Homo sapiens: one gene and its partners. The protein of the gene in region 4 purifies or fractionates together with the protein of the main gene of each other region. This does not show direct contact. Each region holds a gene or a part of one and is shown on either strand. Other genes may lie near its edges.

Region 1 (3,500 bases), on a different chromosome or scaffold from region 4:
TGCCACCACGCATGGCTAATTTTTGTATTTTTAGTAGAGACGGGGTTTCACCATATTGGCCAGGCTGGTCTCGAACTCCTGACCTTGTGATCCACCTGCCTTGGCCTCCCAAAGTGCTGGGATGACAGGTGTGAACCATTGCTCCCAGCCCTAACACCCCTGTCTTACACATGGAAAGAAACGCAGAGCAGAGAAGAAACTTTCTTAGAGGGTCATGGTTGGGGAATCTTTGCATATTTTCAGACCTTTTGCATATTTTCTGATCTTTTGCATATTTTCTGATTTATAGGAAATACTCATTATATATCTTAGTTATTACTTTTTATTATAGCCACCATGTAAGTAATCTTGACATATCTGTCTGTGCTACACCTTTTATTTTTTCTATGAAACATTACCAAAACTTCACTGCATTAAAGGAGGTATTCTGAAACAAGGAAAATTCAACATTTGAAATCTCTGCCTCCCAGGCAGAGCTCTTCTGCGGGGCCCTATATTTGGAGTCCTTGCTGCCTGCACAGGTCTAGGTGGATCTGATTTGCTGGACTGAGAGAAGGGAGGGGATCACCCACACATGGATGATGGCTCAGGTTCCACATGAGGAGCTTGCTGAGACATCACTGGTGAAGAAGCAGGCTCAGGTTTAGTGACTTAATGTCACATGGGATATAACAGGCCTGACGTTCCTGCTCATGTCCAGCTGGGCCAGCACTGGGGTTCAGTGCAGGTCTGAAGCAGGATGGCAGCATGCCTTAGGAGGATTTCCTCTAGGTACAAATATTCATTTGCTCTCTCAGCAGGTGTTTAATTCATGGCTCCTGTGAGCCAGCCGCATTCCAGGTGCAGGGGCATGGTGGTACAGAGGCTTGGAGTGTAGCTCATAGTCCAGGGGGAGGCAGTCCAGTAAGAGAGACAGTGAGCAACAGTCCCTCAATAGAGCCTGGTGCAGGGACAGCCTGCAGACACTCTGCTGGGAAGCTAAACCCTCAGCTGAGATTAGGATGATCCAGCGAACTTAACCAAGGAAGGAGGAGATGAGAGAGGGCTCCCAGCAGGGGCGCATCATGTGCTGAGAGATCCTGTGATGAGTGTGAGAGACAAAGGACAGCCCAGTGTGCTGGAGTGCAGAGAGTGGGTGCTGGGTGTGAGTGGAGGCTGATGGGGAGCTGGCGTTGTGGGGAAGAGCAGTGGAAACCCACAGCAGAATTTTTTTTTCTTTTCAAATAATTATAGAGATACAGGAAGTTGCAAAGAGTACAGAGAGATCTTGTGTATGCTTCACCCAGTTCCCCCCAGTGGTTGTATCTCATGTAGTTCTAGCACAGTAGTAAAACTGGGAGGTTGACATTGGCATATTGAGTGTGTGGAGTTCTGTGTCATTTGTCTCCATGTGTGGAGATCCATGTGGCCATCATGACAATCCAGATACAGAACTGGCCGGGGGTGGTGGTCACACCTGTAATCCTAATACTTTGGGAGGCTGAGGTGGGAGGATTGCTTGAACTCAGGAGTTCAAGACCAGTCTGGCAACACAATGAGGCCCTGTTTCTACCAAAAATAAAAACAATTAGCTAGGTGTGGTTGGACATGCCTATAGTCCCAGCTACTCAGGAGGCTGAGGTGTGAGAATTGCTTGAGCTCAGGGGGTTCAGATTACAGTGAGCTGTGATTGCACCACTGCACTCCAGCCTGGGAACTGTCCCCTTACTACAAAGATCCCTGGTGCCACCCCTTCACAGTTCACACCTCCCTGTCCTCACCATCTCTTCTCCTAGCTGAACCCTAACCTGTTCTCCATCTCTGATTTTGTCATTTCAGAATGTTTTATAAATGGGATCATGCTGTGAGTCACCTTTCACGATGGCCTTGACACTTAACATGATGCCCTTGCCATCCCTCTGGTTGTTGAGTTCAATAGTTCATTCCTTTTCACTGCTGAGTGTTGTTCCATATACAGAAAAGTACACACCTGCTAAATGTGTAGGTCACTGGATTTTCACAGGGTGAACACACACACACATAGCAAATACCAGTGAAGAAACAGAACAGGACCACAGCGCCAGAAGCTCACTACTGCCTCAGGGGTCACCCTCCTGACCTCTTGTGACCCATATATTTCACTTGTGTCTGAACTTTACATATGTGAGTCGTGTGTACTCTTTTGTGTCTAATGTTTGTGGGTATTTGTGTTGTGTCCAGATTGGGGTTTTGGCAGATAGGGTTGCTGGGAATTTTCTTGTTCCCGTGCAGTGTTTCTCTTGAGTACATGCTGAGGAGTGGAACCACCAGATCAGGGTAGGTATGTGTTTAGTGTTAGATACAACCAGTTTCTCCAAGTGCCAGCAGTGGATGAGAGGTTCCTCAAGAGGCTTTTGAAGCCATCCCCACTGGGAGCCAGTCAGGGAATGGGTCGTGCACGGTGTCTGGCAGAGCCCAGCAAACAGTGGACTCCTGACTCGCCACAAGACCCCTTCTCTCTTTCCAAGTCCGTGGTGTTTTCTTTGTTATTAGAAATTTGTATTGACTCATAGGCAACCTCTGAGCTGATTATTTTTCTATGCATGGTACATTCTTTTACATTTAAATTTTTTAAAATAGTGATACATTCACAAGGTTCAAAAGTGAAAAAGAATATAAAGATATTCCACAAAGATTCTCTTTCCTCACCCTGTCCCTCATCTACCTTGGTCTCACTGCCGTCAGTAATTTCTATTCTTATTTCCTCCTTAGACAAAAGGTAGCATAATATACAGCGTGTTCTATGGCTTTTTTTACTTAATCTTGTGGGTCAAGTGTCTTTCTATAAGTATAGAACTTTCTTAGTTTTTTTTTCTTTTAAATAGTTGCAGAGTAGTGTGTTTTATAGAGTTGCCAGCATTTATCTAGCTGGGCGCCTACTGATGGACTTTCGTTTGTTCTGTTTGTAGTCGGACGAGGAAGGCAGCCAGGAGAAAGGAGGGGACGACAGCCAGCAGAAGTTCATTGCTCACGTCCCTGTTCCCTCGCAGCAAGAGGTAGGACCACAGCTAAGAGCTGCCTGGGCGCCGGGGGCTTCTCTAAAGCAGACTTCACAGAGCACTGTAGTGGGTTTTCGTTGTCCTTCCTACCCATCAGGGCAGCTCAGGGTCCTGACCACATGACACCTGTCATTGTGTTCAGGGTGTGGGGTCCAAAAAGGGCAGGACCCTCTGCTCTAGGCCATTCTATCGTTCAAATGTTTCCAATGGGAGGGAGTTAGGACTCTTGGAGACTATTCTGCGTATTTAAATCAGACTCCTTGATGGACTTCTCCCACGGGGACTTCCTCCTGGCTGGGTCTGGCAGGGGTTGAGGGGCTTTGCTGAGGAGTGAGCCCTGCACTCTTAATTTCCACAGATTGAGGAGGCACTGGTGCGAAGGAAGAAAATGGAACTCCTCCAGAAGTATGCAAGCGAGACCCTGCAGGCCCAAAGTGAAGAAGCCAGAAGGCTCCTGGGGTATTAGGACCCAGCTGGGGCTCT
Region 2 (3,500 bases), on a different chromosome or scaffold from region 4:
TGGACAGAGAAGAGAGCCTCCTAATTCTCAGTTCTAATCCACTCCTGAGGCCCATTTCAAGATTGCTTTCCTGCCATTGTCATCCAGGAGGCACCACTACATCTTAATGATAAACTGTCCTGGTTTACATTACTTACAATTAAATAATCCTAATACAGCCTCTGTCCCAGGCAAAAATCGAAGTGCTTCACCTTGAAGCACTGAACCTGGTAATGCTCACAACAGGCACAAGGAATATACTGAAAGAGTAAAGCAAAAGTTTATTCTCAATATGAAAGATATTTTTCTGTCATTTCCTTAGAATGTTCCTGTCCCCAAAACTGCTTCAAACTTCTTCCTTCTTCTCAAACCATACTGTACTCCCTTAAGTAACAGTCCCAGAGATAACATCCCTCCCCTCTTTTTAACTTTACCAAGAAGATTTTAGGTAACCTCTTTTAGGCTCTTTCATTTTTTTTCTTTTTTTTTTTCATTTACCATTTTCTCATTACCCAGACTTCCCTCTGAAATGGATTATGAAGCTATAAGGTTTTAAAACTCACTTTATCACATTATTAGATGGAGTAAAAACTACCTATTTCCTTTTGCTCTAAACCCATGCTAGGCCAGGCATGGTGGCTCACGCCTGTAATCCCCTGGGAGGCCAAGGCGGGTGGATCACCTGAGATCAGGAGTTCAAGACCAGCCAGGCCAATATGGTAAGACCCTGTCTCTACTAAACATACAAAAATTAGCTGGGCTTGGTGGCGCACACCTGTAGTCCCAGCTACTCAGGAGGCTGAGGCAGGAGAATCGCTTGAACCCAGGAGGCAGAAGCTGCAGTGAGGTGAAATCGCCCCACTGCACTCCAGCCTGAGCAACAGAACGAGATTCCACCTCAAAAACAAAACAAATTTACCCATGCTAAACCAATGGCTGTTAATGGACTAAAAACAAAAGCACAAAAGGTCTACTACATCAGATATGCTCAGATAATGAATGATTCCTACAAATTTTAGGATTCAATGTTTCATTAAATTCACAAGTATTTGCTTATGATTGAGCAAACACAAGCCGAAAGCATGGTGATATGTGAATGTCAGTGGTCACATGTTACCCTTCCAGACATCTCTATATAGATGTTAAATAACCTTTTTCAAGGCTCCACTCATGCCTTCAATTTCATTTACTACTACTTCAGGAAACCTGCTCACAATTATTACCCACTTCACCTTAAACCTGGTCAGGCTCTCCCTCTCCTCTTCTACAAAGAGGGACAGGCTTCTCTTCATCAAAAGAGCTTTCCCACTTGACTCCATTGGTCCCTCTAGTTATTGCCTAGTCTCTCTCTGCCAAACTTCCCAAGGAAGCAGTGTGGACCTGCTGCCCTCTACTTCCTCTCCAACTTTTGTGCCTTGACCCTACAAACAGCCTTTGATTTCACCCAACCTAACCCAATGGCTGCAGCCACGGCTAATTCATATATGATAGCATCATCAAGCAATTTAGCAAAAGATGTTCCTTCTTCCAAACATCTCTGAGGGCACTGGGTCTGGCTGGTGGGCCACTCCCATCCATCCTGTCAGAAGCCCTCAAGAGAAACGCTGGGCAATCTTGCCAATAGCCCCTCCTTGGTCCTCACTTTTCCTGACTTTTCTTGTACTAGTTCACACAAGCGACCATCATCTTCCTGAAACATTCTTCTCTTTTCCTCTTTGGCCTTCCTGATTCTTTTATCTCTTTGGTAAATCCCTTCCTCTACATGTAGGCTTACTAGAGTAGAAGTCTTTGGTCTTCAGGAATTTTTCCTTTATATACGGCTCCCTCATCAATTCCATTCACCTTTAATTATCACCGCAATAAGCACCACCCCCAAATCTACATCTCTAGGTATTCACTGACTACTTCCACTCAAATTCAAATTAAAAAGAGAACTCATTATTTTAAGAATATCAGAAAAATGGGGTTCTCAAGTCAATACCGTGGTTATTTTGAAGTTAATTGTCTCTGCCTACTATAGAGGGTTGAAGGTAGGAAGAGTTCTGGATTGCCAATTAATGACAGACCTTCATTTCAGTGTTACCAATGACAACCTACAATACAATCAGACTCCGCCTTCAGAGGACATTAATTGGAGTTATCTAGTGAGTGGAGTATCAGAATTCAATGAGGATAGAAGGATGGAAGAGGTCAGAGATGGCTTCATCAACTTCACACTTGTTTCAATTTCTAAACCCAACAATAAATGGCAACTAATATGGTTTGACTATGTCTCCATCCAAATGTCAACTTGAATTTTATCTCCCAGAATTCCTACGTGTTGTGGAAGGGACCCAGGAGGAGGTAACTAAATCATGGGGGCTGGTCTTTCCCGTGCCATTCTCATGACAGTGAATAAGTCTCACGAGATCTGATGGGTTTATCAGGGGTTTCCGCTTTTGCTTCCTCCTCATTTTCTCTTGCTGCCGCCATGTAAAAAGTGCCTTTCACCTCCTGCCATGATTCTGAGGCCTCCGCAGCCACGTGGAACTGTAAGTCCAATTAAACCTCTTTTTCTTCCCAGTCTTGGGTATGTCTTTATCAGCAGCATGAAAACAGACTTAATACAACAACCATGACAACAGGCCTTTCTCAGTTGTCACTTATCCTGACCTTTCTTTTACTCTCATCATATATAGTTGGTCTCAAGAATTCTGAGGAAAATAAGGCAGTTTCCTAGACTCCAAAATAACCAGTTCTCCTAAAAACATTCCTCCTTCCACTTGCCTTCTCTATTCCTATATATAATTATTCATAACCAAGACACCCTATGGTTTGAGTGTCCTCTCCAAAACTCATGTTGAAATTTAATTGCCATTGTAACGTTATTAACAGGTGGGGCCCTTAAATGGCAGTTACAACATGAGAAGGTGAATGCCATTATCCCAGGCTCCTGATAAAAGGATGAGTTTGGCAGGATATTCTCTCTCTGTCTTGGAGACTCACCTGCCCTTCTACCATGTTATGACAACATAAAGGCCCTTAGTAGATGCCTGTGCCATGCTCTTGGCCCTCCCAGACTCCAGAACTGTCAACCAAATAAACTTCTATTGTTTATAAATTACCTAGTCTGTAGTATTGTTACAGGAGCAGAAAATGGATTAAGACACTCCAGGACAAAAGTTCAAATTTGACTCTTTCTTTTAAATCCAATATGGCAAAGTGTATATTAAGCCTATCAATTCTTCCCTTGGAATGGTTCTCAAATCATTCTTTCTTTCCACTTCTCCCCCTAAAACAACAGAAAACATTTTTAACTCATCCAGAATTTCCTACTAAATCAGTAGAAGCCTTTACTCTTGCTCAACTGTGAGACCTTTTTAAACCCACTATTAATGGATCAAAGCTGGCCCTTGAGTTTAAACTGCTTTAGGCCTCCAATCTCTCCTCATGCTGCATGTTAATACCAGGCTAAAGTTTCAAAACGCATTTATCATGTCACCATCTTGGCAAGCCACTGTAGCAAATGTAAACCCTTACTG
Region 3 (3,500 bases), on a different chromosome or scaffold from region 4:
CCATGAGTTAATGATTGTTGAACAGGGTACTGGGTATATGGGACTCACCAGGGGTATTGGGTGTATGGAATTTCCCATAATAAAATATTCTTTCAGTGTTTGTAGAATGGAAGCATGTATGTATATAAACAAATGTATATATACAAATGTTTGTTTTAAATGATAGACTAAAAATGTTAGAAATTCTAATCCCAAGCATTTATTGCTTTTTAAAAAGGGAACTGTACATGATCAGATCATGGAAGGATAGCTCCACTCCTCCCCGACCTTGGTCACAGGCCGCCATGAGGAGGGACTGCTCCAGTCCTCCGGTGGCCACTGCCATCTTCCTCATCACTGTCCTTAGCTTTGGAGTACACAACTCCAAGTGGCCCGAGTCTAGACTCTATCAAATTCCACACTGATAGCAACAATGACTGCATCTGATGTGTGCTGCTGGCAATCTTAAGCCCAAAATGCTTCAAAGATTAAACAGCCATATACATTTAAAATACATAGAAAAATAATATAATTAGAATGTATACAAAGTAGATTACAAAACAACTTCACTACAAGAAATACATCTTATATCCAAGCACAAAAATGTGGAAATATACATGAAAGGATATACGTTTAAGAAACCACATTTTTATTTCTAAATGCTGAGTGAGAAGGCATGGACTACTAAATTCTGGATTACTGATAAAATTTCAAAAAGAACTTGATTTTGCTAGCAGAAATTTTTACCCCATTCTCAAGCTTCTATAAACAGTTCTTGAAGGGATTAGACAGCTGTTCCTCTTTCCAAATTCTGTTTAATTTCAGCTGTGTATTTCCCATAGAATCTTTCAGCTTTCTTGTTGAATTTGGCATTCCTTTCATTAATGTAGTCGATATCTGCATCATCATTATAAGGACGTCTCCGGCTATATTTGTCTCGTTTTTCAATCCTGGGGAAAGAAGAAAATTTACAAAATTCAAAATTGCCTTCTCTTTTGATCTTAATAAAACACAACCAAACAGGAATATAATCACGTTTAGAATAGCACATGTTGTGAGGGCTAGAGGAAGCCAGGAGAGTTTTCATCAAGTTAAAGTTGAAACTGAATTAATGGCACAACTCAGAATATGAACTGTGAAATCCAGTAAATACAAATTCATCTTCAGAATGCTAGAGCGATGACTCATTGTTGGGAACTTGACTGTACTGAAGAAGATAACTATTGGCTGGGCATGGCGGCTGTAATCCCATGCCTGTAATCCCACTACTTTTGGAGGACAAGGCCTCCCAAAAGGTCCTCTGGGAGGATCACTTGAGCCCAGGAGTTCCAGACCAGGGCCTGGACAACATAGGAAGACTCCATCACTATAAAAAAAATTTTTTTGAATACATTTTCTAAAAAAGAAGATAACTATAACAATATTAAATAGGCCAGGCGCAGTGGCTCATGCCTGTAACCCCAGCACTTTGGGAGGCCAAGGCAGGTAGATCACCTGAGGCCAGGAGTTTGAGACCAGCCTGGTCAACATGACGAAACCCCGTCTCTACTAAAAATACAAAAATTAGCCAGGAGTGGTGGTACACGCCTGTGGTCCCATTTACTCAGGAGGCTGAGGCAAGAGAATCGCTTGAAACTGGCAGGTGGAGGTTGTGGTGAGCCAAGATCGTGACACTGCGCTCCAGCCTGGGCAATAGAGTGAGACTCCGTCTCAAAAAAAAAAAATTATATTAAATAATAACCACAGCTAATACTGAGCACATAATATGTGCCAGACACTTTTTTTTTTTCCTGAGACAGGGTCTCGCTCTGTCGCCCAAGCTGGAGTGCAGTGATGCAATCACAGTTCACTGCACCCTCCACTTCTTGGACTCAAGTGATCCTCCTGACTGAGTCTCCCAAGTAGCTAGGACTACAGGCACGTACCACCATGCCCAGCTAATTCCTGTATATTTTTTGTAGAGAAAGGGTTTTGCCATGTTGCCCAGGCTGTTCTCAAAGTCCTGGGCTCAAGCAATCCTTCTGCCTCAGCCTCCCAAAGTGCTAGGATTATAGGCAGGAGCCACCACGCCCAGCCCAGACACTATTCTTAATACTTTTCATGTATTAACTCCTAAAATATATTTTCATTCTGCTCTACCTAATAGTCGCCTCTATCAGTATTAAGAAACACAAACCTAAGCGAGGAACATTTACTACAACATTCTTGCTTCTTCAAATCAAACAGGGGAGTGGTTAAAGTAAAATCCTTAAAGAAGGATCATTTTTTTTAGACCTTTCCCCTTCAATATTAACAATTCAGTTTCATCAACATTCTTCATCTCCATTCCAAATCAGATATATTCAACCCACACTTGCTATCCATCCCCAAGCCACTATAGACAGGTCAAAAATTAGCAAGTATAACTGTACAATTTCTATCTTTTGAATTCATTCTAAGCACGTCAGATATAGGTGCATATTCTAAGTGCATTTTGTCATGAAGTATTTACAACGTCAAGCTGCTCTACTGAATACTTACTGTTTTTCCAGATCTATGACCATCCTGTCAATTTCCTCTGTGGAAGGCACATGTGTTCCATGAAGAAGACTATTGGATGTTGGGAAAAACTCTTCTCCACTGAAAAGGCAGCAAAATGAACTTACAGTAACACTATAAATGCTCCATTTTCAAATTTCAAACTAAAGTACCATACATGATAAGAAAGTATACACATACATTTACTGTGAGATCCTACTTTAATTTTTTTTTAAAAAAACATACAGGCTGGGTGCAGTGGCTCACATCTGTAATCCCAGCACTTTGGGAGGCCAAGGCAGGCGGATCGTTTGAGGTCAGGAGTTCAAGACCAGCCTGGCCAACATGGCAAAACCCAGTAGAGACTGAAAATATAAAAATTAGCCGGGCGTGGTGACACACACCTGTAGTCCCAGCTACTTGGGAGGCTGAGGCAGGAGAAGCACTTGAACCCGGGAGGTGGAGGCTGCAGCGAGCCAAGATCGCCCCACTGTGCTCCAGCTTGGGCGACAAAGTAAGACTCCGTCTCAAAAAAAAAAATTTTTTTTAATTAAAAGAATTAAAATAGGACCATGTGGAGGCCAGGCGCAGTGGCTCACGCCTGTAATCCCAGCACTTTGGGAGGCTGAGGTGGGCGGATCACAAGGTCAGGAGTTTGAGACCAGCCTGGCCAACATGGTGATACCCCATCTCTACTAAAAATACAAAAATTAGCTGGGCGTGGTGGCAGATGCCTGTAATCCCAGCTACTTGGGAGGCTGAGGCAGGAGAATTGCTTGAACCCGGGAGGCGGAGGTTGCAGTGAGCCGAGATCACGCCACTGCACTCTAGCCCAGGCGACAGTGCAAGACTCTGTCTCAAAAAAAAAAAAATAGGGCCATGTGCAGTGGCTCACACCAATAATCCCAGCACTTTGGGAGGCCAAGGTGGGCACATCACCTGAGGTCAGGAGTTCAAGACCAGCCTGGCCAACATGGTGAAACCCCATCTCTACTAAAAATACA
Region 4 (2,406 bases):
GAGGAGGCAGGGGGCGTGCACTTACCCCAGCGCCCAGCAAGCAGCCAGCAAGTGTGAGTCACTACAAGAGTGGCCAGGCTGCCTGCTGCAGACACTAGCTTTGTACCAGGAGCTTGCTGTGTGCCCCTCCTCACCCCCCCCATCCTGTCTCTTTGCAGTTATGAATACTACGTCGATGACCCTCCCCGCATAGTCCTGGACAAGCTGGAACGCAGGGGCTTCCGTGTGCTGAGCATGACGGGGGTGGGCCAGACGCTGGTGTGGTGTCTGCACAAGGAGTGACCTTCTCATGCTGATTTGCAGACGGGGCACCCCTGTGGAGGGGCTGCTGTGGGCCCTGACCTCCAAGCTCCTGCCTCACCGTCTGCCTTGCTCCTCTCTTCCCAAATCATCACCGCCATGGGCCCAGCCCCAAAGGGCAGTGAATGGCCTTCTCTGAAACCCTGCGTCAAGCAGTGGGAGAGGGCAGTGCCCGGTGCCCTGGTGCTCCCAGCTGCCCTCCTGCTTCGGGCCTGGGCCGAGGGCCTTGTGTAGGCCATGTTCCTCGGGCAGCTGCCCCGGGCCGGAGCTGGGCACTCCAGCGGCCCTGGCGCGTGGCTCCTGCATAGCTAGCCCAAGCCAATAAAGGGCTGTGATGAGTGGCTGCGCCTGTGCTCTGCTTGTGCACGGACTCTGGGACTCTCACCCTGCGGAGCGTTTCCCTGGGGGTCTGCCCACTTCCTGGGAGGGGCGCCAGGCCTGGGTGGAGCGCTCTGCGGCAGAGCCCAGCACCTTATACCTATGTATGGGATAGAGGTAAAATCTTAAAAAAAAAAAAAATTTATTGGTGACGTTGAAGAAAAGGGCTGAGGGGTGGATGGCTGGAGCTGGGGCTACGTAGGCGGCCCCTCCTGGTCTTCCTGCTGCATCCGTGCGATCAGCTGTTGCCGCTCGGCCGCCTGGCGCATGCGCATCATGACGAGGCTCTCGTAGTCCCTCTCTGACAGCACTGAGCCCTGTCGGACAGGGCAGGGACAGGGAGGGGTCAGGGACAGCAGGGCACAGCCTCACAGACTCCGAGTACGGTGCCGAGGCAGTGCTGCGTTCTAAGAGTCTCGGAGGGAGGACGGCAGAGGAAGGGAAGGAACCCGGAGCATCCTTTTGGAATCCTGGCTCGCCTGTGTCCCCCAGAACACGCCACCTTTGGCCTCCAGGCCGGCTTCTACCCAGCCAGCTCCCCCTCCCTTTCCCCAGGCCGCGTCAGCTCCGGTCCATCTGTTTCTCAGGAATCACCTGCGGGCCCTCTAAGCCAGGCCCTCGTCTCCCTTCATTTCCTCTGGGCCCTTTACCCTTCACCCCTTTCCCTCTACCCCGTAGCTTCTGCCTCTTAGGTTCCCAAGGAAGGGAAGTTGTCTGAGGAGCAGGGATGCACTTGGCTCTGCTGGGCACTGACCCTGGCACTCTCTATGCCCGGTGCCCTGTGGTCTGGCTCTTGCTGAGGATGCAGAAGGGAGCCCTACCCGAGGCAGCCCGGAATGCCCCACCCTCGAAGGGGAAAAAGGCAAGCATGAGGCCAGCGTGCCTCTAAAACTACACACCAGGGCTCCTGGAGGGCAGGGCCCATAATCAAAAGAATAATAAACAACCATCTGAATGGGCCAAGGCTGTAGGGTGGAGAAGCAGCTCTACAGCGGGACCTAAGCTGCCAACCCACGCCCTGATAAGGTCTGCGGTGGGAATTAAACCTTTTCCTCCCTCGGTGCCGCTTAGGCTGTGTGATGATCATGTGGTCCCAACAGCTTCTCAGAGAAGTGTGAAGCACACCTGAGTTGGCACAGAAGTGAGCTAGGCCAGGGATTGCAAGATGCGGTGGCCTGCCCGTAGCAGAGAGCTGTGGGGCCCTGATCCGCGGTACCCCGCATGGGGACGCTGTCACAGAGCAAGGCAGGAGGAAAATGTGGTGGTCAGTGACCCGGGGAATAGGAAGGGAGCAGCTAGGGTTGAGATGCCAGGCCCTGGCCAGCAGGTTTGGAGTAAGGGGTGTAGAGAAACAGGAAGTGTTACTCAGCCTGGGTTCCCCTGTTCCTCCCGATGGCTGCACCCCTCCCCTCTCCCCGGCTGCAGCAGTCCCAGCTAGGCCGGACTGCTAAGCCTGGCCCAGAGCACGGCTGACAATTCACGGCAGCCTCCCTGGCCCAGCCTCCTGCAAGAGAAGGAGGACCCCAGAGGAAGCCCGGTAGCCAGAGGGGAAGGGCTGGAGCACAGCCAGGTAGGAGGCAACACGGCCCGGCCTTCAGCAGCCGCTCTCCTGGCAGGAGCCCTCTAGGGTAAAACAAGGGAGGACAAGGAAATAGCAGCCAGGCTGATGGCAGGCCAAGAGGAGGCCACATCTCCCATCCCCAGGTTAATGCTGCTCTGCCAAGAAAA

Evidence for each region. Proteins that work in one complex are often made in the same cells at the same time.
Region 1: the proteins of DNAJC17 (region 4) and ISY1 purify together in Homo sapiens (affinity purification with mass spectrometry, with the first as the bait; 2 studies listed by BioGRID). This does not show direct contact.
Region 2: the proteins of DNAJC17 (region 4) and PAXBP1 purify together in Homo sapiens (affinity purification with mass spectrometry, with the first as the bait; one large-scale study listed by BioGRID). This does not show direct contact.
Region 3: the proteins of DNAJC17 (region 4) and SYF2 purify together in Homo sapiens (affinity purification with mass spectrometry; one large-scale study listed by BioGRID and IntAct). This does not show direct contact.

Annotation. Positions count from the first base shown.
Region 1 is NC_000003.12:129,130,064-129,133,563, reverse strand, and holds part of ISY1 (pre-mRNA-splicing factor ISY1 homolog), read left to right. Parts: intron 1-2,927; coding exon 2,928-3,014; intron 3,015-3,375; coding exon 3,376-3,483; 3' UTR 3,484-3,500. Other genes in the region: ISY1-RAB43 protein, read left to right, coding at 2,928-3,014, 3,376-3,476. UniProt on the Homo sapiens protein: Component of the spliceosome C complex required for the selective processing of microRNAs during embryonic stem cell differentiation. Required for the biogenesis of all miRNAs from the pri-miR-17-92 primary transcript except miR-92a.
Region 2 is NC_000021.9:32,765,256-32,768,755, forward strand, and holds part of PAXBP1 (PAX3- and PAX7-binding protein 1), read right to left. Parts: intron 1-3,500. UniProt on the Homo sapiens protein: Adapter protein linking the transcription factors PAX3 and PAX7 to the histone methylation machinery and involved in myogenesis.
Region 3 is NC_000001.11:25,222,503-25,226,002, forward strand, and holds part of SYF2 (pre-mRNA-splicing factor SYF2), read right to left. Parts: intron 2,599-3,500; coding exon 2,500-2,598; intron 930-2,499; coding exon 764-929; 3' UTR 1-763. UniProt on the Homo sapiens protein: Involved in pre-mRNA splicing as component of the spliceosome.
Region 4 is NC_000015.10:40,767,068-40,769,473, forward strand, and holds part of DNAJC17 (dnaJ homolog subfamily C member 17), read right to left. Parts: intron 996-2,406; coding exon 873-995; 3' UTR 283-872; coding exon of another isoform or gene 159-282; 3' UTR 1-158. Other genes in the region: GCHFR (GTP cyclohydrolase 1 feedback regulatory protein), read left to right, coding at 159-282. UniProt on the Homo sapiens protein: May negatively affect PAX8-induced thyroglobulin/TG transcription.